Regions from separate parts of the Homo sapiens genome. Here all the other regions are linked to region 7. The links come from fine-mapping of genetic effects on gene expression. A gene starts in region 7. Each other region holds a variant in brackets. All regions are shown on one strand. Distances are from middle to middle.

Region 1 (4,000 bases), 70 kb before region 7:
CAGTGTTCAGCAATGAATATGACATGGTCCTGGTCCTCCAGGAGAATGGGATATAATTGCGGAGGCAAATGTCTAGAGTTCTGAGCATCTGAGCAGAATGAAATACGGGCTTAGCTGAGGCATACGCCGGGGTCCAGCAGAAGGGGAGGTCCAGGAGGCAGCCTCTGAGTGGGCCCACATCTGTGCTGGGGGCTTCCCAGAGGAGGCCCATGAGGGCCACACACCTCCCATCCCAGCATTGCTACTCCCAGCCTGACTCCTGGCTCAGGAGCAGACTTTCCCACCCTGTTCCTAGTGGGGAGGCTGGTCAGACCCTAAGTGCAGAGGCCTCCCTGAGCCCACGGGGAGACGTGACTTACCCCCACGGCCCTACGCCAGCACCAGATCAGAGAAGACAGGGTGGGGTGCCAGCCACTGCCAGCCTCCCTACAGCTCCACTCCCCACCCAGGCCTGCAGCCACCGCTCCACCCATACTCACACATCAGCCATCTCCCGTGGTTCTGCATCTATTTTTACCTCCATTGGCTCCTCCTCAGAGCCACACTGTAGAGTGGGTGGGGCAGGACTGTGATCCCCATCTTCTGTGAGGGGCAGGGAGGCCCAGAGAGGTTCAGGGACAGCCTCCCGTCCCCAGCAATGCTGGCTGCACATGCCTTCTAGGCCCCGCCGATGGGCACTCGGTTAGGCAGCCTCGCCTAGCAGTCTGCAAACTCCCCGAAACGCATCCTCACTGGGCCTCCCTTCTCGACACAGAACCAGAGAGCAGCTGAGCAAAAGGCTGAGGTGGAAGCTCTGAGAGGTGTGTCCAGGAGAGAAAAAGGAAGACCGCTGTGGTGTGCCGGGCCAGACTCACAGAGCCGGCGTGGTTCCGGGGCCGCCCCGCTCCTCAAGGGATTCTGGCCACCACTGCCCTCCAGTTCCACCGGGAGCCAACCTCTCCTACAGGACGGGTCACTGCTGCAGAGAACGCCGTCAGCCCCAGAGCGGGTGGGCCAGGGCCCAGCAGATGCTCCCTGCCTGTCCCGCCTCGGGAAGGGCACCTGCCCACCTGGCTGCAGCCTCCAAGCCAGCTGTTCCCTCCCCCCTTCAGCTGACCCAGTGCTTTTCCTTCAAGGAAGCTCAGTGACCTCTGGCTCTTGCCCTTTGCAAACACCCTCTTGCCTCAGCTCGGAGACACCAAGTCCCTGTCTCCTGGCTGGGAAGAGGGTGGCCCCTCTCTTGCGGTTGCCGTGGAAACGGGGGATTCCTGCCCACCCGCTCCAGGGAGGCGGCGAGGCTCGGGCTGACAGGCGCGCCAGGTGACTCCTGGCACAGCCGCCGGAGCCCTGAGCTGGGCTGGCCTGGAGGGGGCGGCCACCACTGCCCCGAGGACACCGGTCGGGGAGGCAGGCCCGCCCCTCTCCCCCGGGAACAGCTGCCGGGGCCGGGACCCTCCGCCGAGGGCTTCCACCCGGCCGCGCGCTCTGCGCCCGCATCAGCCATTTCTCCCGCGCACCTTCGGCAGCGCCGGCCCGGCCCCCCCCAGCGCCCAGGGCGTGTCACGCTCCCACCTTCACAGCCACCAGGAAGGGGGACCCTGAGCCGGGGCTGGTCGGGGTTCCCAGCTCGCACTCCTCCAGGAGAAACACATCTTCGTCCTCCAGAACCTTGTCCAGCAAGCCTATCGCCTCCTCTTCCTCCTCCATGGCAGCCGGAGCCCGCGGAGGGCAGACAGGAAGCGGGGTCCACGCAGCGGCGGCGGGAGGAGGGAGGAGGGAGGAGGCGGGCGGGAGGGGGGGCAGGTCTACACCCGCGCGCCCGGCCTGGGGCTCCCGACCCGGGACTGCATCCCGGACCTAGTCCAGCCCGCTCCGCCGCCGCCGCCGCCGCCTCGCGCGTCCTCGCCCGGCGAAAGGGGGAGCAAGGCCCGGGCAGCCCCTGACGCCGTGCCCGGCCCGTGGCGGAGGCGAACCCGCCGCACAGCAGCCCAGCGCCCTCCTCCGTGTCCCGCCCGGCCCCGCAGGGCCCGCCCTTCCCGGGCTCCGGGGCTCGGGCTCGCGCTCGCTCCGAACACACAGGAAACGCGCGTCGCGAGGTGGAGCCGCCCGTCCTCTGGGGTTGCGGGGCCGCGGCTGGCGGAGGCTTCTGCGGCGGAGGAGGAGCGAGGAGGCCGCGGCCGGGCCGGGGTGGGGTGG[A/G]GCGGGGAGGCCGCTTCCCAGACGCATCTTCATTCCCCGCGCGCGGCCGAGCCAGGAGCCCGGCGAGCAGGGGCGACCCCCAGAGCCACCCCGGAGTCCCCATGCGCCGGAGCCCCCTTCCGGAGGGGAGGCCCCGGCCCGCCCAGAAGCCACAGCCGCGTCCCGCCGCCGCTGGAGGAGTCAGGCTTTGCAACAGACAGGCCTGACCTGCCCCCAGGCAGGAGCGCGGCGCCACCACTGTCCTGCACAGGAGCGGTGGGCGTCCCACTCACAGGGACCAGGATCCCCCTCCTCCAAGCAGCCCCCCTCCTCCGAGCAGTCCCCCCACTCACGGACGCTACTGACACCAGCACCCCCACCTCCTCTGAGCAGCCCCCCCACTCACAGACCAGCCCCCCTACTCACAGGCGCTGCAGAGACCAGGACCCCCACCTCCTCTGAGCAGCCTCCCACCTACTCACAGGCACTGCTGAGACCAGCACCCCCACCTCCTCCAAGCAGCCCCCCCAGCCACCCCACCGCAGGGAGCCATCCTGCAAGGGGAGTGCACACAGAACCCAGGACAGGCACCATCTCCGGCCCTGCCCACTCCCAGCCAGCTTCCCCTGGCTTCTCCAATGGTTGCAGAACCCCCAACTGTGCAGGGAGTGAGGCCACATTCTGGTCCCCCTGGCCCTAGTTCCCAGATGCACATACACCTCCTTCCATGGGAGGAGGAGTCCAGAGGAGGCCCTGGGAAAAGCTCTTTTACAACCCAACGATGGAGCAAAGGTTGCAAACGGCACCCATGAGGGTGCGGGTGAGGCCTGCGGGTGAGGCCAGCCGGTGAAGCGAGCCAGGTAGGGCAGGGTGAAACCACCACTCACTCCAGCCGATGGCTGCTGGAGGAAACGCAAGCTCATGGCTGCCTGATCTCTGTTCAAAATAAGCTAAAATCTGGCTTATTAACAGGAATGCTCCTGATTTTAAAACGATGGCAAATAATTAACATTTTAAAACAACATGGTGCCGTCTAAATGAACCACACCTGTGGCCCGAGTTCAGGCCACAGCCCCCCACTCCCCCCAGAATTCTTCAGAAGCTCTGGGCTCTAGGTGGGGCTCATGCAATTCCATTGGCAGCAGAGAAGCTGCCCTCCCTGGAGAGAGGCTCCATCCTGTTGCAGAGCTGAAATACAGAGCAGGGGATTGCGGGGTGAGCCCTTGAGGGGCCCCAGGGCTAACAGCCTTTGATCAGGGAACTGTGCCACCAGGGTTCAACAGAGGCACACCCCCACCCCACCCATCTCCTTCCAGCCCCTGGTTTTCCCCTGTCCCTGCCTGGGTGGGTTATAAATAGCCAGGGCGCATCTGAAGGGCCCTTTCAGCCACAATTCCTCATTTGGTGCGGGCGGGTGAGGCTGTGGCGAGGGCTTGGGAACGACCAGGCCTGGCATTCCCCAGGGCACAAGTATGCCAGCTCAGGGCCTGGTACCACGGGTTCTTCTGTCTCCCGCCCGGCGGGCTCCAAGTGCATGGCATGGGCTGCCCACATGAGTCAGACCTGCAGGTGACACGAAGAAGGGCCTAAAACCCCACAGGCCCCTGCTGTGTTCCTTCCTCCACTCAAGAGGACATGAGGTGCCCTTGGAAGTCTGCCAGGATATCCTCGTCCCCGTTCCCCACACCTCTACACGGCATGGTGAGACTGACGCCCACTTCTTCCCAAAATCCCTGAACCCCACACAAGTGACTCCCTGAGTATCCAGGGCCTCTCTACTCCACCCTGTCCCCGGTGGCTGGAAATTCCAGTGAGTAATGAGAGTGCCCCTCCATCAGACACAGAC
Region 2 (4,000 bases), 78 kb before region 7:
TTGCAGTGAGCCGAGATCGCACCACTGCACTCCAGCCTGGGTGACAAGAGCAAAGCTCCGTCTTAAAAAAAAAAAAAAAAAAAAAAAGAACACAGCCTCCCACCTCATATTTCCTGACACGGGGCCTCAGGATGGCACTAACGGTTCCCTCACCCAGGGAGGTAGAAGGACTTGGACACAAGACGGCAGAGACTTCTTAACTGGATTGATTGGGAATGACTGCCCAGAGCACAGCGTGGAGAAGGCGCTCGGCCCCCGCCCAGGCAGGCAGAGCACCATGATGGGTTCACGATGCCCTATGCCAGGGTCGTGGGTGACAGGTGTGTTTGCCATCTCTAAGCCGGGTGTGCTTCTCCTGCCTTTTGAGAGCTGGAGCTGAGAGGCACAGGCCCTTTCTGGCAATGACCCGGGCTGCCCGATGCCCAGCCAGAAGCAGACCAGCTGCAGACTCTGTCCACAGGGAGGGACGGGTACGGTCCCCTTTCCTCTCCAACTCCAAAAGCAGCTTCAGAGCATGACATCACCCAACACGGGCGGGGGGACCGGAAGGCCCCAGAGCAGGGACTGTACTCACCAGCAACAGGGCTTCCAGCTGGTTAATGTAGATCTCTTCGCTGGCCAAGAACCCCGAGAGAACCAGCTTCCTCATCTCCAGGCCTTTCCCTGCTTCCACCTGCACAAACGCAAAGCACAGCCAACAGCTCATGAGCAAGGAGGCCAAAACCCTGCGTGGACGGTCTGCTTCCCTGCCCTTCCCCCCCGACCTTTATTTTTTTTTTGAGACGAAGTCTCGCTCTGTCACCTAGGCTGAAGTAAAGTGGCACAATCTCGGCTCACTGCAACCTCCGCCTCCCGGGTTCCAGTGATTCCCCTGCCTCAGCCTCCCGAGTAGCTGGGATTACAGGCACCTGCCACCATGCCCAGATAATTTTTGTATTTTTAGTAGAGATGGGGTTTCACCATGTTGGCCAGGCTGATATAGAACTCCTGACCTCAGGTGATCCACCCACCTCAGCCTCCCAAAGTGCTGGGATTACAGGTGTGAGCCACCATGCCCAGCCATTATGCCAGACTAATTTTTTTTGTATTTTTAGTAGAGATGGGGTTTCACCATGTTGGCCAGGCTGGTATAGAACTCCTGACCTCAGGTGATCCGTCCGCCTCAGCCTCCCAAAGTGCTGGGATTACAGGCGTGAGCCACCGCGCCCGGCCCCCCTTTCCCCTTTCCTTTTATTTTAAGCGACACTTTCATAGGGGATAAAAGTCAGATATTATTATAAAAAATATACAAAACATGCAGAAATATAAAAGGAAAAGACAATCACCCATATTCCTCCTGTAACATCTCGTTTTGCTTCCCTCAATCTATTTTCCACCTGGGTTCTCGAACCGACTTTTCCTCCCTCTCTTCCTCTCCTCCTGCCTGTCCCACACACCAGAGCTGGATTCAACTCCTAAGAGTGCCACCTTGCCCGATGCTTGCCAAGGACCGAGTATGAATACCGCAAAACGCGAGTACTTGGGGATTCCACTGGGCTATGTGTCCATTTATTTATTCATTCAATAAATATTTACTGAATGTCCACCAGGCCCTATAGATACCATGGGAAACAGACAGTGGCCCCTGTTCTCAAGTGGCTTAGACTCTAGTGGGAAAGACATTTATTTTTTCTTTTTTTTTTTTTTTTAGAGACGGAGTCTCGCTCTGTCGCCCAGGCTAGAGTGCAGTGGCGCGATCTCGGCTCACTGCAAGCTCCGCCTCCCGGGTTCACGCCATTCTCCTGCCTCAGCCTCCCGAGTAGCTGGGACTACAGGCTCCCGCCACCACGCCCAGCTAACTTTTTGTATTTTTAGTAGAGCCGGGATTTCACCGTGTTAGCCAGGATGGTCTCGATCTCCTGACCTCGTGATCCGCCCGCCT[T/C]GGCCTCCCAAAGTGCTGGGATTACAGGTGTGAGCCACCGCACCCTGCCGGAAAGACATTTAAAAAACAAGTAAAGATTCGGCCCTAGACTGGGACATGGGGCCCACCATATCCTTTATGAGCCACCTGCAGTGGCCCGGATGCCCGTCCCTACCCTTCCAGTCTTTCCCACAGCCAGGACATCGCTCAGTCTCCCCCACACGCAGGAGAACCAGCCTCCTCATCTTCAAAGGTCTCTAGCTTTCGGTTCGTTCTTTACCTGCTGCCTAAAATGCCATCTTTCCCTGAGGCATCGTGGCCACAGAAGGGGAGTGAGAGGGCCGGGGAGACAGGGTAGTGGTGAGGGACTGCTTGGAAGATGCTACACTGGTAGGTTTGAAGACAGAGGATGGGGCCACGAGCTAAGGAATGCAGAGAGCCTTTGGAAGCTGGAAATGGCAATAAAATGAACTCACTCCCCTAGAGCAGGGGCTTCCGATCTTTTGGCTCCCCTGAGCCACACTGGAAGAAGACGACTGTCTTGGGCCACACATAAAATACAATAACACTAACGACAGCAGATGAACTAAAAGAAAAATATATAATGTTTTAAGAGTTTACAAATTTGTGTCGGGCCACATTCAAAGCAGTCCTGGGCCGTATGGCCGCAGGCTGGAAAAGCTTGCCCTAGAGCTTCCAGAAGCAATGCAGCCCTGGAGATCCTTTTTATTTTAATTAATCTATTTATTTATGTATTTACTTATTGAGACAAAGTCTCCCTCTGTCGCCCAGGGCTGGAGTGCAATGGCATGATCTCAGCTCACTGCAACCTCTGCCTCCCAGGTTCAAGCGATTCTCCTGCCTCAGCCTCCCGAGTACCTGGGATTACAGGCGTCCACCATCACACCCACTAATTTTTGTATTTTTAGTAGAGATGGGGTTTCACCATGTTGGCCAGGCTCGTCTCAAACTCCTGACCTCAGGTGATGCGCCCGCCTCGGCCTCCCAAAGTGCTGGGATTACAGGTGTGAGCCATGGAGCCGGGCCGAGATCCTTTTTAGATTTCTGTATAAGAGAATAAATTTGTGTGGTTTTAAGCCCTTAAGTTTGTGGCGATTTGTTTCAGCAGCATTAGAAAAGCAAGACAGACCCCACGCTTCAGGCAAGGGCAATAGTTACTTATTGGCGGCTTCACAAATTCCAGGAACTGAGCTTAGCTATCTTTGTGGTTCAATTCACCGGAGTCTCAAAACCTGGCAGGTGTTATCATCTTCCTGAGGCACCGAGAGTCGGGACTGCCAGAGGCCTGCACAGCCTCCAGCACACGTAGCCCCGGGGGACAAGATCAGAGCCTGGAACAGCCCCCAGCTCCAGCCCCTCCAGGTCAGACCCTCAGGGGTCTTCCTGCTGCTTCCCAGCCTTGACAAATGGGAACTCATCCCCTGTGCTGGGGGCTAGCACTCCCTCCTGTTCCCTGCCAACCAAGGTTTTGCCTGAGGGTTTAGCAAATGCCACACCGTGAGCTGTAACTGTAGAGCTGGTTGGACTAGGATGGGGGGAAGAAAGGGATTTGCAGCCCCAGCCACAAACAAGCTTCATCCCCCCTGGCACGAGCATAGACCCTGGAAGCCCTGTAATCGCCCATTTCTGCAAGATCCTCCCCTCAAGACTTCCATTCATAGTCCACTCTTGAAAGGCTGGTTCTGATGGGAAGACAACTCAGGAAGACCCTCCCTCAAGAGGCAACAGTCAGCCCCAAGAGTCCTGCTCTGGGCCCCGTTCACGCTGCAGTTTTGGCTGAGATTGGAGCAAAGGCGTTGGAGAGCGTACGGATGGGAAATTAGCCTCGGTGCACTTGGCTAACAGGAGACCCGTTGCTCAGTCACCACCAAAGGAAGGCCTGTTCCATCTCCCATCTTTTCCAGCTTTCCTCAGACTCCACAATTCCCAGTTTAGAGCCATGAGGAAATTCACATTGTTTCTTCAGTCTTTGCAGGGCGTCTCTTGTCTCATCAAAAACCAGGCTCACCACTCACTCACCCATTCCCACCGGGAGCCAGGCACTGGGAATACGAAGGTGAAGGAGAGGTGCCCACGTGC
Region 3 (4,000 bases), 130 kb before region 7:
ACCACTGCACTCCAGCCTGGGCGACCAAGTGACTCTTTCTCAAAAAAAAAAAAACCAAAAAAACCAGCTTTCCTGCAGAAAGGACAGTGCAGCTACCCCAAGAAGCCTCCAGCTGGAGCAACAGAAAGAAGACCCAGGTGGGCCTCAGAACACACAGAACGGGGCTGGGGATTTGCAGGTGAACAACACAGAGGCCCTGAGCACCCCAGCCTGGGCCAGACCAGGGAGTGGGCCTGTGTGTTTGAGACGGGCCATGAAGTGCTGTCATCATGGATTGATCTCGGTGTGAGCCCCTCCTCGAGGGGCTGGGGAGGGCTCACAGGGTCAGAGGGAGGGTTCCGGAAGGGGCTGGGGGAGGGCTCACAGGGTCAGAGGGAGGGTTCCGGAAGGGGCTGGGGGAGGGTTCACAGGGTCAGAGGGAGGGTTCCGGAAGGGGCTGGGGGAGGGCTCACAGGGTCAGAGGGAGGGTTCCGGAAGGGGCTGGGGGAGGGTTCACAGGGTCAGAGGGAGGGTGCCGGAAGGGGCTGGGGGAGGGGTCACAGGGTCAGAGGGAGGGTTCCGGAAGGGGCTGGGGGAGGGGTCACAGGGTCAGAGGGAGGGTTCCGGAAGGGGCTGGGGGAGGGGTCACAGGGTCAGAGGGAGGGTTCCGGAAGGGGCTGGGGGAGGGTTCACAGGGTCAGAGGGAGGGTTCCGGAAGGGGCTGGGGGACGGCTCACAGGGTCAGAGGGAGGGTTCCGGAAGGGGCTGGGGGAGGGTTCACAGGGTCAGAGGGAGGGTTCCGGAAGGGGCTGGGGGAGGGTTCACAGGGTCAGAGGGAGGGTTCCGGAAGGGGCTGGGGGAGGGGTCACAGGGTCAGAGGGAGGGTTCAGGAAGGGGCTGGGGGAGGGCTCACAGGGTCAGAGGGAGGGTTCCGGAAGGGGCTGGGGGAGGGGTCACAGGGTCAGAGCGAGGGTTCCGGAAGGGGCTGGGGGAGGGCTCACAGGGTCAGAGGGAGGGTTCCGGAAGGGGCTGGGGGAGGGTTCACAGGGTCAGAGGGAGGGTTCCGGAAGGGGCTGGGGGAGGGGTCACAGGGTCAGAGGGAGGGTTCCGGAAGGGGCTGGGGGAGGGGTCACAGGGTCAGAGGGAGGGTTCCGGAAGGGGCTGGGGGAGGGGTCACAGGGTCAGAGGGAGGGTTCCGGAAGGGGCTGGGGGAGGGCTCACAGGGTCAGAGGGAGGGTTCCGGAAGGGGCTGGGGGAGGGTTCACAGGGTCAGAGGGAGGGTTCCGGAAGGGGCTGGGGGAGGGTTCACAGGGTCAGAGGGAGGGTTCGAGAAGGGGCTGGGGGAGGGCTCACAGGGTCAGAGGGAGGGTTCCGGAACGGGCTGGGGGAGGGTTCACAGGGTCAGAGGGAGGGTTCCGGAAGGAGCTGGGGACGGCTCACAGGGTCAGAGCGAGGGTTCCGGAGTCAGACCATCTGGGTCCACACCCCAGCTCTGCACAGATCACCTCCCTTCTCTCCCCAGGTTCCTGTCTGCACAGCAGGAAAAGTCATGGTGCCTACACCCTGGGCCTGCCTGTCCAGAGGTCCTGAGTTTACCACGGCTGAAGACACAGGGCCTCACCTCTGAGTGAGAACAGACATATGAGTGGGTCAGGGGTGGCGGCGGCGAAGGGAGTGAGGATAATCTGGGGGTAAAGAGAGATTTTGGAGCAGCTCAGCCGGCTCTGACACCCGCCCAGGCTGGGAGGCCACGGGTCGGCTCCCTGAGGCGAGGACCTCCCGGCCAACGGGAAGCAGGAGAGGGAGGGGCGGCATCTGGGGACATGGAGTGGTGGCGCCTGGTCCAGACATGGGTGGGACAGTGCTTCAGAGCTCACTAGCCAGAAGCTCCTCAGCGGCAGCCCCCAAGAAGGGAGGTCT[G/A]TGGGTCTGGAGAGAGTTCAGGAAGCTTCCACGGTAACAAGCAGCCTGAGGGACCGTGTGGTGTTCCCGGCCAGACATCGAGAAGTGCCCAAAAGGTTAGAGCTCCGGCTCTGGTGCCGGAAGACGTGGATTCTGCTGCACCACCTGCTACTGTGTGACTCCAGGAAGGAACCTTGAGCCCCTCCGAGCCTCGGCGTCCTCGTGTGTAAAACAGGGATGGTTTCCGTGACCTCGGCGGGATGCCGGAGGCTCAGAGCGGACCGTGAGACTGAGAGGCTCTGAACACGCCACAGGCTTTGCACATGTGAGTACGTCCACACGCCAGCCATGTTCTCACCTTCTCCAGGTGCACGGTAGGTGCTGTGTAAATTAACGACTTCATTCCACATTTCTGAGCTCCCATGCATCCCAGGGTAAAGGAGACCTGGTTCCCGCCCTCAGAGAACTCACAGTGGGAGACGCAAATTGTTAAGTGACAAAACAGCATGACAGGTGCCATAACCAGCTTGCCCTGAGCAGGATGGGGGCACAAGGAACCTCAGGGGATGGGGGCACAAGGAACCTCAAAGGGATGGGGATACAAGGAACCTCAGGGGATGGGGGCACAAAGAACCTGAGGGGACGGGGGCACAAAGAACCTGAGGGGATGGGGGCACAAGGAACCTGAGGGGATGGGGGCACAAGGAACCTCAGGGGATGTGGGCACAAGGAACCTCAGGGGATGGGGGCACAAGGAACCTGAGGGGATGGGGGCACAAGGAACCTCAGGGGATGGGGGCACAAGGAACCTGAGGGGATGGGGGCACAAGGAACCTGAGGGGATGTGGGCACAAAGAAGGGACAAAGAAGGGAGGCCAGTTTGCCCCCAGGAACTCAGGGAGGCTTCCTGGGAAAGGCTGCTCTAACGGCCCGGGGAGTCACCTCTGTGTGGGGCGCTGCAGGGAGGGGTGAGGGCAGACCCCACCTGCCAGTGAAGAGCAGGGAGTGGGAGGGGCAGGTGGAGAGGGAGAGAGTCAGGGTTTCTGATCCTCTGTGATGTTAAGTCTTTTCTCCTCTCTGTGACTCGGTTACCTCCTCTGGCAAATGGGTAGAAACTATTAGCTGTCTAACTGACTCACAGATTCCCGTGTGGATAACAGGTAGATAAAAAGCGCAACCAGGCCGGGCGCAGCAGCTCACGCCTGTAATCTCAGCACTTTGGGAGGCTGAGGTGGGAGGATGGCTTGAGCCCAGGAGTTCAAGACCAGCCTGGCCAACATGGGGAGAACCTGTCTCTAAAAAAAAATTTTTTAAAAATTAAAAAGTGCAATCCTACTTTGTGAGACACTAAAAACAGATTTAGTATGAGGAACCCACAAGGGGGAAGGGGAGAAAAAGCGATGAGCGTGGCAGCACACCAGCGTTGCACACACACGATCATATCCCAGCCTGCTCTCGGGTCAAAATTCACAAGCGTGACTGCCTTTTAGTGGAGGCCCAGAGAGGTTAAGAAACTTGCCCAAGGTCACACAGCTTGTCATGGGCAGATATGAAGTTGGAGTCCACGTGTTTGTCGCCCTCAGATATGAAGTTGGAGTCCACGTGTTTGTCGCACTCGGTTTCTTTTTTTTTTTTTTGAGACGGATTCTCGCTCTGTCGCCCAGGGTGGAGTGCAATGCCATGATCTCAGCTCACAGCAACCTCCGCCTCCCGGGTTCAAGGGATTCTCTGGCCTCAGCCTCCCAAGTAGCTGGGACTACAGGCGTCCACCGCCATGCCCACGCTAATTTTAGTATTTTTAGTAGAGACGGGGTTTCACCATGTTGGCCCGGATGGTCTCGAACTCCTGACCTCGTGATCCGCCCGCCTGGGCCTCCCAAAGTGCTGGGATTACAGGGGTGAGCCACCGCGCCCGGCCCCTAGGTTTCAGACAGCTTCAGGGAGGGCTTGAGAAAGAGGACTTTGGAGACAAAGGCCAGGGGTGACCTCCCTGCCAAGAGGAGCTGGTTTCTGGCCTCCAGGGGAATGCCCCATGTCTAAAGGCGTGCTGGCAGGGCCCCATCCTGGGCAGAGCAGTGCAGAATCCACAATGGCCCACCCAACCTCGTCCTGGCCAGGGCAC
Region 4 (4,000 bases), 65 kb before region 7:
GATTGACCTGGTGACTGACTCCCAAGGCAGTGTCAAGGGAGGGGCAAGGCCGTACTGGGGAGGGGAGCAGTGTCAGAACTCTGCAGCTGAGGTGCCACTTTTCTGGAAGGGATAACATGGAAACACCTATTGCGATTTTTTTTTTTTTTTTTTTTTTTTTTGAGACGGAGTCTCGCTCTGTCACCCAGGCTGGAGTGCAGTGGCATGATCTCAGCTCACTGCAACCTCCGCCTCCTCGGTTCAACCCATTCTTTCGCCTCAGCCTCCCAAGTAGCTGGGATTACAGGAACCCGCCACCAGGCCCGGCTAATTTTTGTATTTTTAGTAGAGATGGGGTTTCATCATGTTGGCCAGGCTGGTCTCGAACCCCTGACCTCAGGTGATCCACCCGCCTCGGCCTCCCAAAGGGCTGGGATTACAGGTGTGAGACACGGCACCTGGCCCACTGCTTATTTTTAGATTCGACTTTAAACGTCACCTCCTCCAGGGAGCCTCCCGTGACTCCCCGTTGGCTGCGTCAGATGTGCCCGCTGGTGCCCTCAGAGCCCACTCTACGTTCCCAATCGTGGCACTTCTATTTTAACTTCTTTATTTTCCTGTTACATCACTAACAATTCTAACTCTGTAGACACACATAATAAAGAAAGAGAAAGTCTCCTCTGGTTCCCTCTGACAGAGGGAGCCTCTAAGAGTTAGTTATACATTTTTCCTTATTTGTGTCCACGAATAAACTATACATATAGGCCGGGTGCAGTGGCTTACGCCTGAAATCCCAACAGTTCGGGAGGCCGAGGCAGGAGGATCACTCAAGCCCAGGAGTTTGAGACCAGCTGGGCAACATGGCAAGACCTCATCTCTATAAAAATTTTAAAAAATAATTAGCTGAGTGTGGTGGCATGCTCTTGTGGTCCCGGCTTCTTGGGAGGCTGAGGCAGGAGGATTGCTTGGGTCAGGATATTGAGGCTGCAATGAACTGTGTTTGTGCTACTGTGTTCCAGACTGGGCCACAGAGAAAGACCCTGTCTCAAAAAAAAAAAAAAAATTAGGCTGGGCGCAGTGGCTCACGCCTTTAATCCCGCACTTTGGGAGGCCGAGGCAGGTAGATCACTTGAGTTCAGGAGTTCGTGACCAGCCTGGTCTACGTGGTAAAACCCTGTCTCTACTAAAAATACAAAAATTAACCAGGAGGGGTGGCACAGGCCTGTAATCCCAGCTACTCTGGAGGATGAGGCACAAGAATTCCTTGAATCCGGGAGGCAGTGGTTGCAGTGAGCTGAGATCACACCACTGCACTCTAGTCTGGGCGACAGAGCAAGACTCTGTCTCAAAAAAAAAAAAAAAAATTATGGCCGGGCGCAGTGGCTCACACCTGTAATCCCAGCACTTTGGGAGGCTGAGGCAGGCAGATCACCTGAGGTCAGGAGTTTGAGACCATCCTGGCTAACACGGTGAAACCCCGTCTCTACTAAAAATACAAAAATTAGCTAGGCGTGGTGGTGGACGCCTGTAGTCCCAGCTACTCAGGAGGCTGAGGCAGGAGAATCGCTTGAACCCAGGAGGCGGAGGTTGCAGTGAGCCGAGATCGCGCCACTGCACTCCAGCCTGGGTGACAGAGAGAGACTCCGTCTCAAAAAAAAAAAGCAGTGGTTAGAGATGCTGGTGGGGCTGGGGAACAGACAGGAGAGAGACTATGTGAGGCACAATGACATGAGTTTAGTCTGGCTGGTTCATGCATTCATTCAGCTAATATTTACTGAGCACCTACTGTGTGCCAGGCACAGTTCTCGGCACCAGAGACTGCAATGAGCAAGTTTTGTTACAAAACCGACAAAATCTCTCTCTCGTGAGAGTTCACAATTCTAGCACGGAGTTGGTCCTGAGGCCACAGAGGTAGGCAGGGGGTCCAGGGGTCAGGTCACACAAGGCCTTGACAGCTGTGCAAAGGGAAGGGGGGCCCCATAGGCGAAGGGAAGGTGCTGGAGGATTTCAGGACAGGTGTGACAGGACATTCATCCTGCATCCCTCCTGCTGACATCAGATGACTCTTTCTAAAACACTGCTCACTCTATGCCCAGCAGGAAGCCACCAAGCCAGCCCAAACAAGAGCC[G/A]TGGGGCCCCAGCTGATGACTCACCCATCTCACTGTTGACAGTAACCTCTCAAAGGGCCTGGCACGTTCTCACTTCCAGGCCTTTAACAACGGCAGGTCCTCGGCTTGAAGCACTTTCTCCCGCCTCTTGGCTTCTCCCTGGCTCTCCCAGCTTTCCTGGCAGAAACTCAAGCCCCACCTCCAGACTGTATGAAGCTCAGTAGCTCTTCAGCCAATGGGAACTGACACCAAAGGGCAAGTGCCAGGGCAGTTGCAGCCACTAACTGCAGCCACAGATGGGACTGGATTCGTCACCTTCCAGATCACCTTGCTCCTCCCTCTGCCTCCTCTCTGTTCTAGTACAGGTCACTCCAAAATCATATACATAGTTCAACTACATAAAGCTAATGTTGGCCAGATGCAGTGGCTCACGCCTGTAATCCCAGCACTTTGGGAGGCCGAGGCGGGCAGATCACCTGAGGTCAGGAGATCAAGACCAGCCTGGCCAACGTGGTGAAACCCCGTCTCTACTAAAAATACAAAAAATTAGCCAGGCGTACTGGCGGGTGCCTGTAATCCCCGCTACTAGGGAGGCTGAGGCAGAAGAATCACTTGAACCCCGGGAGGCGGAAGCTGCAGTGAGCCGAGATCACACCACTGCACTCCAGCCTGGGTGACAGAAGGAGACTCTGTCTCAAAAAAATAAAATACATAGGCTGGGCGAGGTGGCTCACGCCTGTAATCCCAGCACTTTGGGAGGCCGAGGCGGGCGGATCACCTGAGGTTGGGAGTTCAAGACCAGCCTGGCCAACATGATGAAACCCCATCTCTACTAAAAATACAAAATTAGCCGGATGTGGTGGCCTGTAATCCCAGCTACTTGGGAGGCTGAGGCAGGAGAATCACTTGAACCCAGGAGGCGGAGGCTGCAATGAGCCGAGATTGCGCCACTGGACTCCAGCCTGGGTGACAGAGGGAGACGCCATCTCAAATAAATAAATTACATAAAATAAAATAAAGCTAATGTTGAGGAGAAGCCGGTACACAACACTGTTTATACAGTGAAACAAATAAACTAAAACAGAAAGAAAACTCCCCTGCACTCTGGATGTGAGCCCCAGCTCTGCCTCTTGCCAACTGTGTGACCTGGGCATGTCATCTAGTCTCCCTGTGCCTCCGTTTCCTCATCTATAGAATGGGGGTAATTACGGCATCAACTCTAGGGCTGCTAGCTAGCCAGAAGACGGAGATCCCAGACAGGGCGTGAGAGCTGTGGGATGAGCCAGGCCAGCCAGGTGTGGTTCATCAGGGAAGATTAACAGTATGCAGAGGTGAGCAAGATCCCAGCCAGGTGTGAATGTAGGAGGGCCAGAGAGGACGGGAGCCAGCGATGACGGGACCCAGGGTCACAACCAAGGCACTAGTCTACCTACTTCCGACTTACCTCCTTCCCAACTGGGACAAGCCCAGGAGCCACCCTGAGCCTCAGTGTCTTCATCTACTAAACGGGGGCAGCCCCATGGCTGGAGGACTTGGGTGGCAGGGCAGCCCCTGGGCTCCTAGCACAGCACCTGGCACACGGGAGGGTCCAGCTCGTGTCCTTCTCTTTGCAGCAGGGACCCAAGATCCAGGAAGGGGAGAAATGCAGGGGCCGGCTGCTGGGGGGCGGAGGCTGAAACTCGAGGAGTCCCTGAACCACACAACCCAGGTCCGGAGCAGTCAGGAGGGAGTGGAGCAGGCACCATCTCAGGAGTTCCTGGCTGCCATGCCGCCTCTTCACGCACCTACCAGCAACCTCGAATCCCAAGCCCTAAGCCTTCTGAAGAGACCAAGAAAGGGAAGAAGAGGCTGCAGTTCCTCCCAGCGTTATCCCTGAGCCTGAGTTCCTCCCAGCGTTATCCCTGAGCCTGAGT
Region 5 (4,000 bases), 130 kb before region 7:
CCACCACAGGGTCTTCAGCGCTGCTGTGCCCAGGGAGGGGCTGCCCTGGCAGGCACGTGGGGAAGTGGAGCTGCCTCCCAGGCACAGGGAGCAGAGGTGGACTGTGGGGTGGGGGCTGTCCCCAGCCTGCGGTGAGCGAGGGAATGACGCAGGGCCGGGGGGCGGGCAGGGGGTGCAGAGGGCCCCTCAGGTTTAAGTAGCTTCTTGGTCTCAGGCCCTTCTCCAGTCTGGGGACGCTGGCAGAAACTGAGCTGTGGGGCCCCAAGGGAAAGCGCTCTCCTCAGGCCCAGCCCGCCAAGAAGGGCCGGACCCTGGGAATATGCTAATCAGCTAGCGGGTAGGTTGCAGCTGGAGCGGCAAGGCTGGAAATAGAGTAGGATAAACACAGTGGAGTCCCCTGGGACCAGGAGCCAGGGCAGACTACGCCGGGGGCAGGGGCAAGAGCCGGTGGAGGGGGGGCTCCCAGCTAAGCGGACCTGGATGGGGTCCCTGAGTCTGGGGCCCTTGTTCACCCACTAACAAGCTCTGTGACCGCGGCTGCCTCGCTCACCCTTGCTGGTGTCCATTTCCTTCTCTCCGGAAAACAGGATTGGATTAAACGCCCTCTAAGATTTATTCCAGGCCGGGTGCCGTGGCTCAGGCCTGTAATCCCAGCACTTTGGGAGGCTGAGGTGGACAGATCACCTGAGCTCAGGAGTTTGAGACCAGCCTGGTCAACATGGTGAAACCCTGTCTCTACTACTACTAATAAAAATCAGCTGGGCATGGTGGTGGGCGCCTGTAATCCCAGCTACTCGGGAGGCTGGGACAGGAGAATGGCGTGAACCTGGGAGGCAGAGGTTGCAGTGAGCCAAGATTGCGCCATTGCACTCCAGCCTGGGCAGCACAGCAAGACCCCATCTCAAAAAAAAAAAAAATACCTCTTCCGGCCAAACCCCCAGGAATCCCCTCCTTTTATTCATTCCTTCTACTGGCCTTGCTTGCAGCTCCCCGCCACCCCTGCTGAGGCTCCTGACTTTCCTGGGACCCTCCCTTCACATTCGTGCCTCCCTGCCAGGCGGGTCTGTCCTCCAGAACTCCCACCCTACTCCCTTCTGCGGAAGCGGAGCCTGCGCACCTTGCTGGAATAACACAGAGCCTTAGCATAGCAATTGCGCTGGCCGCTCTATACCAAGATTTCTACAAAGAATATAAAGTACTTTTAACAAAGTATCCAAAAAGGTGCTTAAGAAGACTCCATACAGCTCTAGAGAAAAGGAGGTTTATAATAATCCATGAAAACAGAAAAACAGACAAAACAGGCCCTGATTAAATCTACATAAAAATGTGTATACCTCAAGAAGGGAAAAGGCACAGAATAAACTGGCTGCTTCGGAGGAGCCGGAGGAAGGATGGTTTCTGATTAGGTTTCAAGTCTCTTTGCTTCTACTGCAATTTTCTTTCTCATACAAACATTGCTTTTGGAATTAAAAAACCCAGGGCTTCCAAATCGCTCTCGTTCCACCTCCTCCTTGAAGCCTCCCTAATTCCAGCCCATGGTGACCTTTCTGCCTCTGAATTCCTGCGGGACAATCTTCCATCTTCTTATAGCAGGACAATCTTCCATCTTCTTACAGCAGGACAATCTTCCGTCTTCTTACAGCAGGACAATCTTCCGTCTTCTTACAGCAGGACAATCTTCCGTCTTCTTACAGCAGGACAATCTTCCGTCTTCTTACAGCAGGACAATCTTCCGTCTTCTTATAGCAGGAGGCAGCAGGACATCTAGAAATGGGCTCTGCAGCCAGCTGCCCGCCCTGGCCCACTCCTGGGCACATGGCCTTGTCCGGGCTCCTTAGCCCCAGCTTCCTCATCTTTCTAGCTGTGATGATATTCCTCTCCCACAGGGTCCTGGGAAGATCTCCTGAGACAGCAGATGGAAGCATTTAGCACCGTGCTGGGCTCGTCCTGGGCTCGCTTATGTGTGTACGGCTATTGTGGCTGACATCTAGCATTCTTCTCACTGGAGAACATGGACCAATATACTCGTCTTTCCAATCTGACAGTGGGTCCCTGGAGGCCAGGACCCCCTCCTGGGCTGGGGACCTCACAGACGCATGCTAAGTACCCCTCCTGCTGTTTTCTTTTCTTTTTTTTCCCCAGACAGAATCTCATTCTGTCTTGTCCAGGCTGGAGTGCAATGGAGCAATCTCAGCTCACTACAACCTCCACCTCCCAGGTTCAAGTGATTCTCCTCCCTCAGCCTCCCAAGTAGCTGGGATTACAGGTGCCC[G/A]CCATCACGCCTGGCTAATTTTTGTTTTTTTAGTAGACACAGGGTTTCACCACGTTGACCAGGCTGGTTTCGAACTCCTGACCTCAGGTGATCCCCCCGCCCTGGCCTCCCGAAGTGCTGGGATTACAGGCACGCACGACCACCCCTGGCTAATTTTTATATTTCTAGTAGAGACGGGGTTTCGCCATGTTGGCCAGGCGAGTCTCAAACTCCCGACCTCCTAATCCGCCCGCCTCGGCCTCCCAAAGTGCTGGGATTACAGGCGTGGGCCCCACACCCAGCTAATTCTTGTATTTTTAGTAGAAACAGGGTTTCGCCATGTTGGCCAGGCGGGTCTTGAACTCCCGACCTTGTAATCCGCCCGCCTCGGCCTCCCAAAGTGCTGGGATTATGGGCGCGTGCCACCACGCCTGGCTAATTTTTGTATTTTTAGTAGGAAAGGGGTTTTGCCATGTTGGCCAGGCTGGTCTCGAACTCCTGACCTCGTGATCAGCCCACCTCGGCCTCCTGCTCTTTCCCGCACGTGCTCCTCTCCTTCCTCCCAGGGGCACCAGGCACAAGTGTCCCCTGCCCAGAGGACTCCAAGACAAAGGACGCTCACCTTATGCCATAAAGCAGCACCTCAGCTGCTTCTCCAGGCCATTAGCCATGCCACGGCCCTCTGTCCGGGCTGGGGGATTCGTTGACAAAGGCCTGAGACGTGGGGACATGGCACAGAGGAGGGAACATGGCCTTTCCCACATACCATACGCAGAGATGCCTTGGCCAAGGTACTTAACCTCAGTACCCCAGTGTCCTCATCTGTAAGATGGGGAGGAGGGACTGTCATTCTCCCTGGAGGATCACGACAAGGATCACACGAGGAGATGGCATTTGGGAAGCGGCCTCCAGGAGCACAAGTGCTGGACACACATTGGTGACGCATGCTGCCGTCTGTCTGTCACTAAATGCTTCCCCCACCCCACCCCGCCGCTGAGACTCCTGCCCCACTGCCCCATCAGGCGACCCAGAGTGGGGGCCTCATCACAGCAGCAAATGCCTGCGCTTAGGCCGTAGGGCCCCTTGCTTTCTCTGGATGGGCTGCTGGGAGGGGGCTTAGAGAGAAGTGGGGGCCTCAGAGACTGCCCTCCTCCTCCTGCCTTTCCTACAGGCCCCCTGAATATCCCCGAGGGCTGGGCCCTATCTCAAAGCCACCTCCGACTATGTCCTCAGCGCCTGCTGGCGGGCAGAAAGACTGCATTCCAGAGGCTAGTGCCAGCTCCCTTCCTTAGATGTGTGGCCGGAGTGAAGGCAGAGACAAGCTGTGGGGACAGACCGTTCCGTGGCTCCGTGGGGCCCGGGTTCGTGGGAACAGCTCCGTGTGGACTCGTCACCCAGCCTGGCCATCCACGGTGGCTCTGAGGGCAGTCACGGGGCGAGACTTTCTAAGCCACAGCCCGCCCCTGGGGCATGCCTCCCCCACCAAAGGCAGGCTGGTGAGATGGTTCTGCAGCGGAGGGCCAGGGCCGGGCCTTGGCATGCTGAGTGCTGGGGGACTTCAAAGGCCTGCAGGGGACTCTGGCTCTGAACTGTCCGCTCACAGGCCCAGGTCAGCTGGCAGCAGGAAGGTTTATGTTTCTTTTAATATCAACTCCCAGGCATTTAACATTCCTCGAAGCTTAAACACAGAAACATTTTCCTTACCAGACTCTGCCTTCTGCTTTGCCAAACATAACCTGGCTTCCTCCC
Region 6 (4,000 bases), 90 kb before region 7:
AGGTTGCCTGGAAACAGCAGCCTGGCACTGGAGTGATCTCATAAAACAAACAGCAGAGACGCTAATTCCCTTCTCTCAGTAACGAATAATCAAATACCCAGAGTCTTCGGCTGAAAATAAACCACCTCCGGATGCCAGACCTGACCCGGCTCCCCCCGGGCCCTCCCAAATCTGCAGCCCCAGGGGCCTCAGGCATCGGTTCACGATGCTGGGGAGGGAAAGTGGTGGGTAGCAGATTCACGGCCAGGCCTGTGGAGCCAAGACCAGAACCGGGGACAGCCAGGTCCAAGTGACAAAGATAAACTGTGACAGCGTTTCCAGCAACCCTAGGTTTGCTCTCCTCTACCCTCCTGAGGGATGAGGAGAGGATGCCCCCCAGGCCACTCAGCTCAGGTGAGCAGGCAGTGATGACAGGTGTTCACCATCCCTGAACCGGAGGGAGCAGGGGGGGGTATGCTAGAACCAGAGTGTGGCATTCCCTTGGAAGGATACCTTCCAGGGTGCCTCTTCCCAATTTAATAATAATAATAATAATAATAATAATAATAATAATAATAATGGCACTGATGATAATGACCAGTTATTGAGTACTTATTAATTTATGATGTTCCAGGCCCTGTTCCAAGCACTTTTTCTTTTACTTTATTGTATTCTATTTCTTTTTTTGAGACAGAGTCTTGCTCTTGTCGCCCAGGCTGGAGTGGAGTGGCACGATCTCGGCTCACTACAACCTCTGCCTCCCGAGTTCAAGCGATTCTCCCACCTCAGCCTCCCGAGTAGTAGCTGGGATCACAGGTGCGTGTTATCATGCCCGGCTAATTTTTGTATTTTTAGTAGAAACGGGGTTTCACCATGTTGGCCAAGCTGGTCTTGAACTCCTGACCTCAGGTGATCCGCCCACCTTGGCCTCCCAAAGTGTTGCTGGGATTATAAGCGTGAGCCACTGTGCCCAGCCATTTTTTTTTTTTTTTTTTTTTGAGACAGAGTCTCAGTCTGTCATCCAGGCTGGAGTGCAATGGTGTGGTTTTGGCTCACTGCAACCTCTGCCTCCCAGGTTCAAGCGATTCTCCCGCCTCAGCCCCCTGAGTAGCTGGGACTACAGGTGCATTCCACCACACCCTGCTAATTTTTTTGTATTTTTAGTAGAGATGGGGTTCCACCATGTAGGCCAGGCTGGTCTCGAACTCCTGACCTCACGATCCACCCACCCCGGCCTCCCAAAGTGCTGGGATTACAGGCGTGAGCCACCACGCTCAGTCAGGCCTATTCTATTTCTTTGTAGAGATAGGGTCTTGCTATGTTGCCCAGGCTGGTCTTGAACTCTAAGCCTCAAGTGATCTTCCAGCCTCAGCCTCCCAAAGTGCTGGGATTACAGGCGTCAGCCACCACACTCAGCCCCATGCAGTTTTCAGATATTAACTCCTCAAAATCACCCAATGAGGTAAATACTGTTACTATCCTGTTTTTTACAGATGAGGAAGCTGATTCAGAGCGGTTGGGTAAGTTGCCCAGTTGCAGGTTTAATCTGGCAGCGCTGGGATTCAAGCCCACTTTGTGACACGGCTCTAGAAGCTGTGCTGGAGAAACAGGACTCTCAGGACAGAAATCTCAGGCCCTGCAACGTCTCCCTCCATGCCCTTCCGAGTTCTCCCGAGGCCCAGTGGTCAAGGTCACGGTGCATTCACTCATTCAAGCAGTGACCACTGGGCTGGTTCTGGGAGTCTAAGAAGAAGGAAATGCAGGCCGGGCGCGGTGGCTCACGCCTGTAATCCCAGCACTTCGGGAGGCCGAGG[C/T]GGGCGGATCACCTGAGGTCAGGAGTTCGAGACCAGCCTGGCCGACATGGCGAAACCCCGTCTCTACTAAAAATACAAAAATTAGCCGGGTGTGATGGTGGGCGCCTGTAATCCCAGCTACTCGGGATGCTGAGGCAGGAGAATCACTTGAACCCGCGAGGAGGAGGTTGCAGTGAGCCGAGATCACGCCACTGCACTCCAGCCTGGGCGACAGGAGTGAGACTCCGTCTCAACAAAAAAAGGAAATGCAGTCCGTCCTCCTGGAACTTGTGGTTTGGGGGAGTCAGGCAGTTACTAGTGCTCACTACGAGGACTGGCACAAGGCCTGCATTTGGCGACTTGGAAAGCCTTCTTGGAGGAGGTCCCTTCTAAGCTGGGAACTGACCAGGGGAGGCCAGACGAGAGGGGGAAGGACGTTTCAGGCACACGGGGCCTCAAGTACCAAGAGTTAAGAAAGTGCCTGCCCTGGGAACTGAGAACAGAAAGTCCAGTGTCAGGAGCACAGAGGTGCGGGGAGGAAGCTGCCAAGGCTGGGGCTGGACACGGGTCAGTGTGCAAAGGGTCTCTCGAGCCATTCCTCGGAGCCTGACCTTCATCCGAGGGCCGTGGGGATCCGCTGAAGGGGCCGTCGAGGTTTCAGTGACTCTCTCCCCTCTAAGGAGAGGTGGGGGTGGGAGGTGAGTGGGCCTGGAGGCAGGAGCCACACAGGAGGATACGCAGCTGTCCAGGTGAGGGCCATGGGTGGCCAAGAAGAGGAAAAGGCGGCTGTGAGCAACGGCCAAAAAGTGGAGTCCACAGGACAGGTGGGGGAGGGGGTGCAGCCAGAAAGAGTCTGAAGCACTCGGTGAGGTAAAGACAGGAAGCGGAGCAGGTGACGCCGGAGGCAGGGAGCTCAGCTCTGAACACACTCAGCTAGAGGTCCTAGGAGTGTCCAGGCAGGAGAGGGAGAGTCTTCTCCAGCGTGAGAAAGGCAGAGCCCTGTCCATTCAGCCAGAACACGGCAGGGGAGGGGAGGAGGCCTCCAGCCTCTCACACCCAGAGAACAGGGCAGGAAGGAGGAGAAGGTCCTCTGGCCACTCACACCCAGAGAAGAACCGCGGCCTGGACTCCCAGTCTCCCTCTTGCCTGCTGGGCGGTCAGACGTTACGTAGCAGAGGTGGGGAGGGAGCTCCATGAGTCTGACCTGGGGGTCCTCCAGGGGACACAGCCAGAGATGGGGCAGAGCTGGGGGAGAGGGTGTCACAGAAGCACAGGGAACCAGAAGACTTCTGTGAACGTTTCCCAACACGAGGTCTGCATGTTAACCCACCCACTCCTGCCGCTCCCGACCCTGCAGTGGTGAGCAGGGCTGGGCTTCAGTGCTTCCTGCTCTTGGGACCTCAGGAGAGGATCATCGGCCAGTGTGCCCAACTGCTTCCTTTTACAGACCCGAGGTCTCAGGGGAGCAGTCCTCATGCCCCTAACCCGGCATGTGCCCCTCTGTTCACTGAGGGACAGGAGACTGAAGCCCAGCAAGAAGCCTTCATTCCAGGGCTGGTTCCTCAGAGCACCCTCCGGGAGAGAGAGGGAGCACCGTCCGGGAAAGACGGAGCACCCTCCGGGAGGGAGAAGGAGCACCCTCCGGGAGAGAGATGGTGCTCCCACAGAAGTGCCCATCCACACAGCCCATCTCCACCACCCCTGGAAGGACCTATCCACACAGCCTGTCTCCACCACCCCAGAAGCTCCCAGGGCTGCACCAGGGGAGGCCTAGAGTCAAGGCCCCGGCCCCAGGCACCCCATAACACACAGGCCCAGGCCTTCCTCCCGGACTCGGAGAGGTCTCAGGCCTTCAAGGAGTCCGAGAGGGCTGCCCGGTCCTCTCCTGAGGCTCCTGCAACACTATGGGCTCCACTGAGGCCCTGCGTGAGGACCCTCCATCCCTGGCAGACTCACCAGCTTCTGGAAGAGGTGGCCCATGGTGACCTGGCTGTCCCACTGTTGCACCTTGGGGCACAGGTTGTCATAGAACTCCTTGTGGATCTCATAGATGTCCTGGATCTTGTAGAAGATGGTCTCGATCTGCTGGATGGTGAGCACGGGCTGGGAGGTGGTGGCGGTGGCCTTCAGGGGTTTCATGGGCTGGGAGAAACAGAGGAAGAAAGAGCAGAGGTCGGGGGTAAACAAACCAGAGTGTCGGCAGGCCCCGGGGCCGATCGTTAGCCCTT
Region 7 (4,000 bases):
GTGAATCTGAGGCATTGTTATGACGGCTGTTTGCAAGCACACAGCTAAGAGAGGGCCACTAATCCTGCCTCCGGGTCAGGAGCTGATCTGCATCTGCGCTCCGAACAGATGTGTGCCCCCATTCATGCAGACGCACGTGCACGCACATGCCACACAGCCATGGGCCCTGACCTTCACCCAACGACGCTGGCCTCTGCAGGGGAAGGAGCAGATGGAGCGGCGGCACCTGGCACAGGACCTATGCCCAGGGGATCCGGCTTTGCCCCTTTGATGTTGAGAAACCAAAGCAGAATGAACCATCACAAGGACAGCTCCTGGGGGGAGGAGAGGAAGGAACATGGATGGAGGAGGAGGCGGGTGGAGAAGAAGATACAGGGAATGACCTGGACCCAAGGGGATGCTGAGGTCAGAGGTTGAATGTTGGGTACCACACAGCCTCCAGAGTAAGGCTTTGGGGCTCAAGGCATCACCCTTCTCTACTCCCCCCACCCCCCCCATATGACTTATCAAGGAACTCTAGCTGGGATGACCCTTACAAATGCCCTTGTTGGCTCACGCCTGTAATCCCAGCACTTTGGGAGGCTGAGGCAGGTGGATCACCTGAGGTCAGGAGTTTGAGACCAGCCTGGCCTCATGGTGAAACCCCATCTCTACTAAAAATACAAAAAATTAGCCGAGAGTGGTGGTGGGTACCTGTAATCCCAGCTACTCAGGAGGCTGAGGCGGGAGAATCACTTGAACCCGGGAGGCAGAGGTTGCAATGAGCGGAGATTGCGCCACTGCACTCCAGCCTGGGCGACAGAGCCGAGACTCCGTCTCAAAAAAAAAAAAAAAGAAAGAAAACGCTCCTGTTCCATGGCATCCAGTGCCTAGAATCAGGCTGAACCAGGCTCCACGTGGCCCCACGTGCCTCCCCCAACTCCTGCCTGGGAGATGTGCTGAGAGAGTGGGAGGGTCCCACTCACGTGGGCCAGGAAGGGCGAAATCCACTATGTAAGCCCAGGAGGACCCTCTTCCTAATCCCTGAGAGCTTTCGGGAAAGGTGTCTCAGGGAAGGGTGGGGAGAAGGGGCGGTGCCTTTCTAGCAACGGAGCAGGAGCAAGGTGCGGTGGTGGGGGCGGGGGGCGGCTCTCGGTTCGCCCCAAGCCCCCCCACACCATTACCCGTGATCAGTTACGCATCCCCCGGGGCCATGCAAGAGCAATCACATGATCCAGAGAGATTTGGGAGCGAGGGGGTGGAGAACTCGAGAAGGTTTGTTTTTTTTTTCTTCTGAGGGTGGTGGTGATGATGAGGGTGGGGGTGGTGATGAGGCTGGCAGGAAAGATTGCTGAGCCCGGGATTTTCAGCTCCCGCATCCAAACGGCCCCCGCGGATATCTGCACCCCCCGTCTCCCCTCCCACCCGATCCCACCCCAGCACCGAACCCCTGGGCCCTGAACCACACATGACCCGGTGCCCCTGGGGTGGCAAACTCGGGTGCCAACGACTGCTCCCAAAACGGCCTTTCGGCTTCAGCCTGGACAGAGAAGCTGCCGGTCCAGGGGCGGGGGCAGCACCCAGAAGGGCCTCCCTCCCCTGAGGCTCGCGGAGGCCGGGTTCACAACAGGTGGGAGGGGGGACGCAGCTCTCGGCTCGGTCCGCCCACGGTCCCCGCCCCCGGACCGCAGGAATCCTCTCTGGGGACCCCCCGCCCGCGCCCCCCAGACCAGCCCGGCTCCTGGGTCCCGACCCCGATCCCGATTCCCAACCCGACCCCGATCCGGACCCCGATCTCGCCCCCGCCCGCGCTCCCCGGACCAGCCCGGTGCCTGGGTCCCGATCCCGATCTTGGGGTCCCGATCCCGATCCTGGGGTCCCGATCTCCATCCTGGGGTCCCGATCCCGATCCTGGGGTCCCGCCCCCGCCCGGCACACGTACTGCTGTAGAGGGTGTCGATCCAGGACAGGCGCGGCAGGCCCCGGTGGCTGAGCGGCTCCATCCCGCGGCGGCGGCTCGGTCAGATCCGAAACCCGACCCTCATCGCGCAACAAAGGAGGGAGAGCGGGCGGGAGCCGGGGGAGGCCGAAGTTGCGAGCGCGGAGGGGCGAGGAGGCCGGGAACCAGGTCCCCGGGAGGAGCGCGGGGCGGCCGGGGCAGGGGCGAGGGCGGGGCGGGAGCCCCCAAAACCCTCCCGAACCCTCCCGGCCCCAGCGGCCGCGCCGAGCCCAGCTGCGGATCCCGGAACCGATGAGCAACTTCGCGGGGGGCGGGGCGGGGGTGGGGCTTCGTGGTGGGGCGGGGCTTTGGTGCGGGGGCGGGGCTTTGGTGCGGGGGCGGGGCGGGGAGGGACCAATCGGCTCGAGGCTCCGCCCTCCGCAGGACGCCCCCGGCCGGGCTAAGGGGGCAGCGGGGCTCCGGCGCTGGGCGAGGAGGGGCCGCGGGGGTCTCGGGGGGTCTCCAGGCGGCGGCGCAGACCCAGGTCCCCCTCGTCCCCCCCGCGCCGGGCTCAGCAGGATCCTGGCGATCCGCAAACCAGGTGCCGTGGGGGGCCCGGGAGCCCACAGGGGTGACATCACCTCCCGCCCGGGATCTCCAAGCGCGGCTTCGCGGGCGGGAGCGGCGGCCGGGCCCCTCCCCAGCCAGACCCGCTGCGGGACCCACGGGGTGAACGTCCTGCGCGCCGCGGGACGCGCCTCTCTCCTCCCGAACCTTCCCCCGCTCGTCCCTTTCCACACCCCTGACCTCTGAGCGCGGCCGTTCCCGCCACACATGGAGGGGGGCGGGTGGAGACCCGGGAGGACCGAAGTCACGGGGGCTGTGGGGCCAGGACAGTCCCACATGTGCCCCTCCTGGGCGGAGGACAAACTGGAGCCAGGAGAAGCCCCAAGGGCTCCACGCGTTCCCCTCCAGGACCCCTCCTGGGGACCCCGAGCCGCGGCCTGGAAAGCCCATCGTGTTTGCATCATCACCTAGAAATGGTGGGAAGTCGGGTCAAGAGGCCTGAGAAATGACCGTTTAGAGACGAAATTCCCTCTAAGGAAGACCCCCTCGCCCAAGGGCAGTGAAGAGATTGGGGGCCCCATGCCTGTCTCCTGTGGGCTGATTCTGTGGGAGCCATGGCAGCTTCCCCACAGACCTCTTTGGGCCAAGCGACCCTGGAGCAGGGAAGGACAGGAGGGGAGTCAGGCCAGGGGGGTCCAGGGCAGTGGGGCTGAAGCCCCTTCCTGAACCCAGGGAAAGGGAAGCAGTGGGGCCCACCCAGGGGGCCCGGTACCCCAGATAGTGACATTTCAGATACCGGAGCTGTCTCCACCCCACCCCATCCCCAGGCAGCTTAAGGGGAAAACTTCTGGGAGCCCAGCCCTACAGAGGCCTACCAGGAAGGTTAAGTCAGCCTGGCCTTTGCCGGGGGCAGTGTGGTCGGCACCCGCAGAACGCTGGAGGGGTGTGGGGGTCGGTCCTCATCACTCCAAACAGACACACACACATCTAGTTCTTAAGGGGAGAAGCAGCTCCTCCCCCAGGATGCTGAGAGGAAGCCCCATAAGCTGCTTGGGCAGAGGCCTCTGCAGCTGCCCCAGGGGAGATGGGGGTCACCCACTCATCACAGGCTGGGGAGCCCCTGGGAGACGCACAGGATGATGCTCTGGGTGGGGAAGCCTCTACAGGTGGCTGCAGCAGAAGTGGTTTTCAATATTATTAGCCCGTCCCTGCGTCCCCAGGGCTCCCTCCGCCCCAATCCTCCTGGCTCAGGCACCAGCGCTGTCTCTTGCCGCCCCTCCCTGCAGCTGTCACCCTCCCACCGTCCCTGACTAGCACACAGGATTGGGAGGGCCAAGCAGGCACCTGGAGCTTGGCAGGGAGGGGGCGTGCATCTCCAATGAGACGCTCCAGAAATAGAGCTTCGGCATGGGAAGGGAACGAGCAGGCTCTCGGAGGACCGCGAGGCCGGAGGAGCCATGAGGGGCCAAGGGCATCTCTTCTTCCCACCTGGAACTCTCGGAAGACAGCCCAGGG

Direction of the effects. Positions count from the first base shown, and alleles are read on the strand shown. Sizes are in standard deviations (SD) of each study's normalised expression. Not every link is listed here.
As copies of G replace A in region 5, the expression in cerebellar hemisphere of the gene that starts at base 2,236 in region 7 goes up (small effect, 0.26 SD a copy in GTEx).

The links.
Region 1: its variant is fine-mapped to the expression of ABR in whole blood (TOPMed, PIP above 0.99).
Region 2: its variant is fine-mapped to the expression of ABR in whole blood (INTERVAL, PIP above 0.99).
Region 3: its variant is fine-mapped to the expression of ABR in whole blood (INTERVAL, PIP above 0.99).
Region 4: its variant is fine-mapped to the expression of ABR in blood mononuclear cells (TOPMed, PIP above 0.99). The same link has a PIP of 0.9 or more in whole blood.
Region 5: its variant is fine-mapped to the expression of ABR in cerebellar hemisphere (GTEx, PIP above 0.99).
Region 6: its variant is fine-mapped to the expression of ABR in esophagus mucosa (GTEx, PIP above 0.99).

The regions. Positions count from the first base shown.
Region 1 is chr17:1,107,383-1,111,382 of GRCh38, forward strand. All of the region lies in intron 2 of ABR (ABR activator of RhoGEF and GTPase), which reads right to left. Among named protein-coding and RNA genes, the nearest start is that of ABR, 71 kb to the right of the region's middle. The variant A/G (reference allele first, on the strand shown) is at 2,176.
Region 2 is chr17:1,100,063-1,104,062 of GRCh38, forward strand. It overlaps ABR (ABR activator of RhoGEF and GTPase), which reads right to left. Exons shown (of 23, transcript NM_021962.5): 3 at 575-673. Among named protein-coding and RNA genes, the nearest start is that of ABR, 78 kb to the right of the region's middle. The variant T/C (reference allele first, on the strand shown) is at 1,922.
Region 3 is chr17:1,052,031-1,056,030 of GRCh38, forward strand. All of the region lies in intron 14 of ABR (ABR activator of RhoGEF and GTPase), which reads right to left. Among named protein-coding and RNA genes, the nearest start is that of MIR3183, 31 kb to the left of the region's middle. The variant G/A (reference allele first, on the strand shown) is at 1,900.
Region 4 is chr17:1,113,144-1,117,143 of GRCh38, forward strand. All of the region lies in intron 2 of ABR (ABR activator of RhoGEF and GTPase), which reads right to left. Among named protein-coding and RNA genes, the nearest start is that of ABR, 65 kb to the right of the region's middle. RefSeq lists an enhancer at 1,586-2,229. The variant G/A (reference allele first, on the strand shown) is at 2,109.
Region 5 is chr17:1,043,748-1,047,747 of GRCh38, forward strand. All of the region lies in intron 16 of ABR (ABR activator of RhoGEF and GTPase), which reads right to left. Among named protein-coding and RNA genes, the nearest start is that of MIR3183, 23 kb to the left of the region's middle. The variant G/A (reference allele first, on the strand shown) is at 2,273.
Region 6 is chr17:1,087,937-1,091,936 of GRCh38, forward strand. It overlaps ABR (ABR activator of RhoGEF and GTPase), which reads right to left. Exons shown (of 23, transcript NM_021962.5): 4 at 3,729-3,914. Among named protein-coding and RNA genes, the nearest start is that of MIR3183, 67 kb to the left of the region's middle. The variant C/T (reference allele first, on the strand shown) is at 1,794.
Region 7 is chr17:1,177,746-1,181,745 of GRCh38, forward strand. ABR (ABR activator of RhoGEF and GTPase) reads right to left here and starts at 2,236. Exons shown (of 23, transcript NM_021962.5): 1 at 1,922-2,236. The coding sequence starts at 1,982. It overlaps ABR-AS1 (ABR antisense RNA 1), which reads left to right and starts at 3,882. Exons shown (of 3, transcript NR_187271.1): 1 at 3,882-4,000. RefSeq lists an enhancer at 2,277-3,043.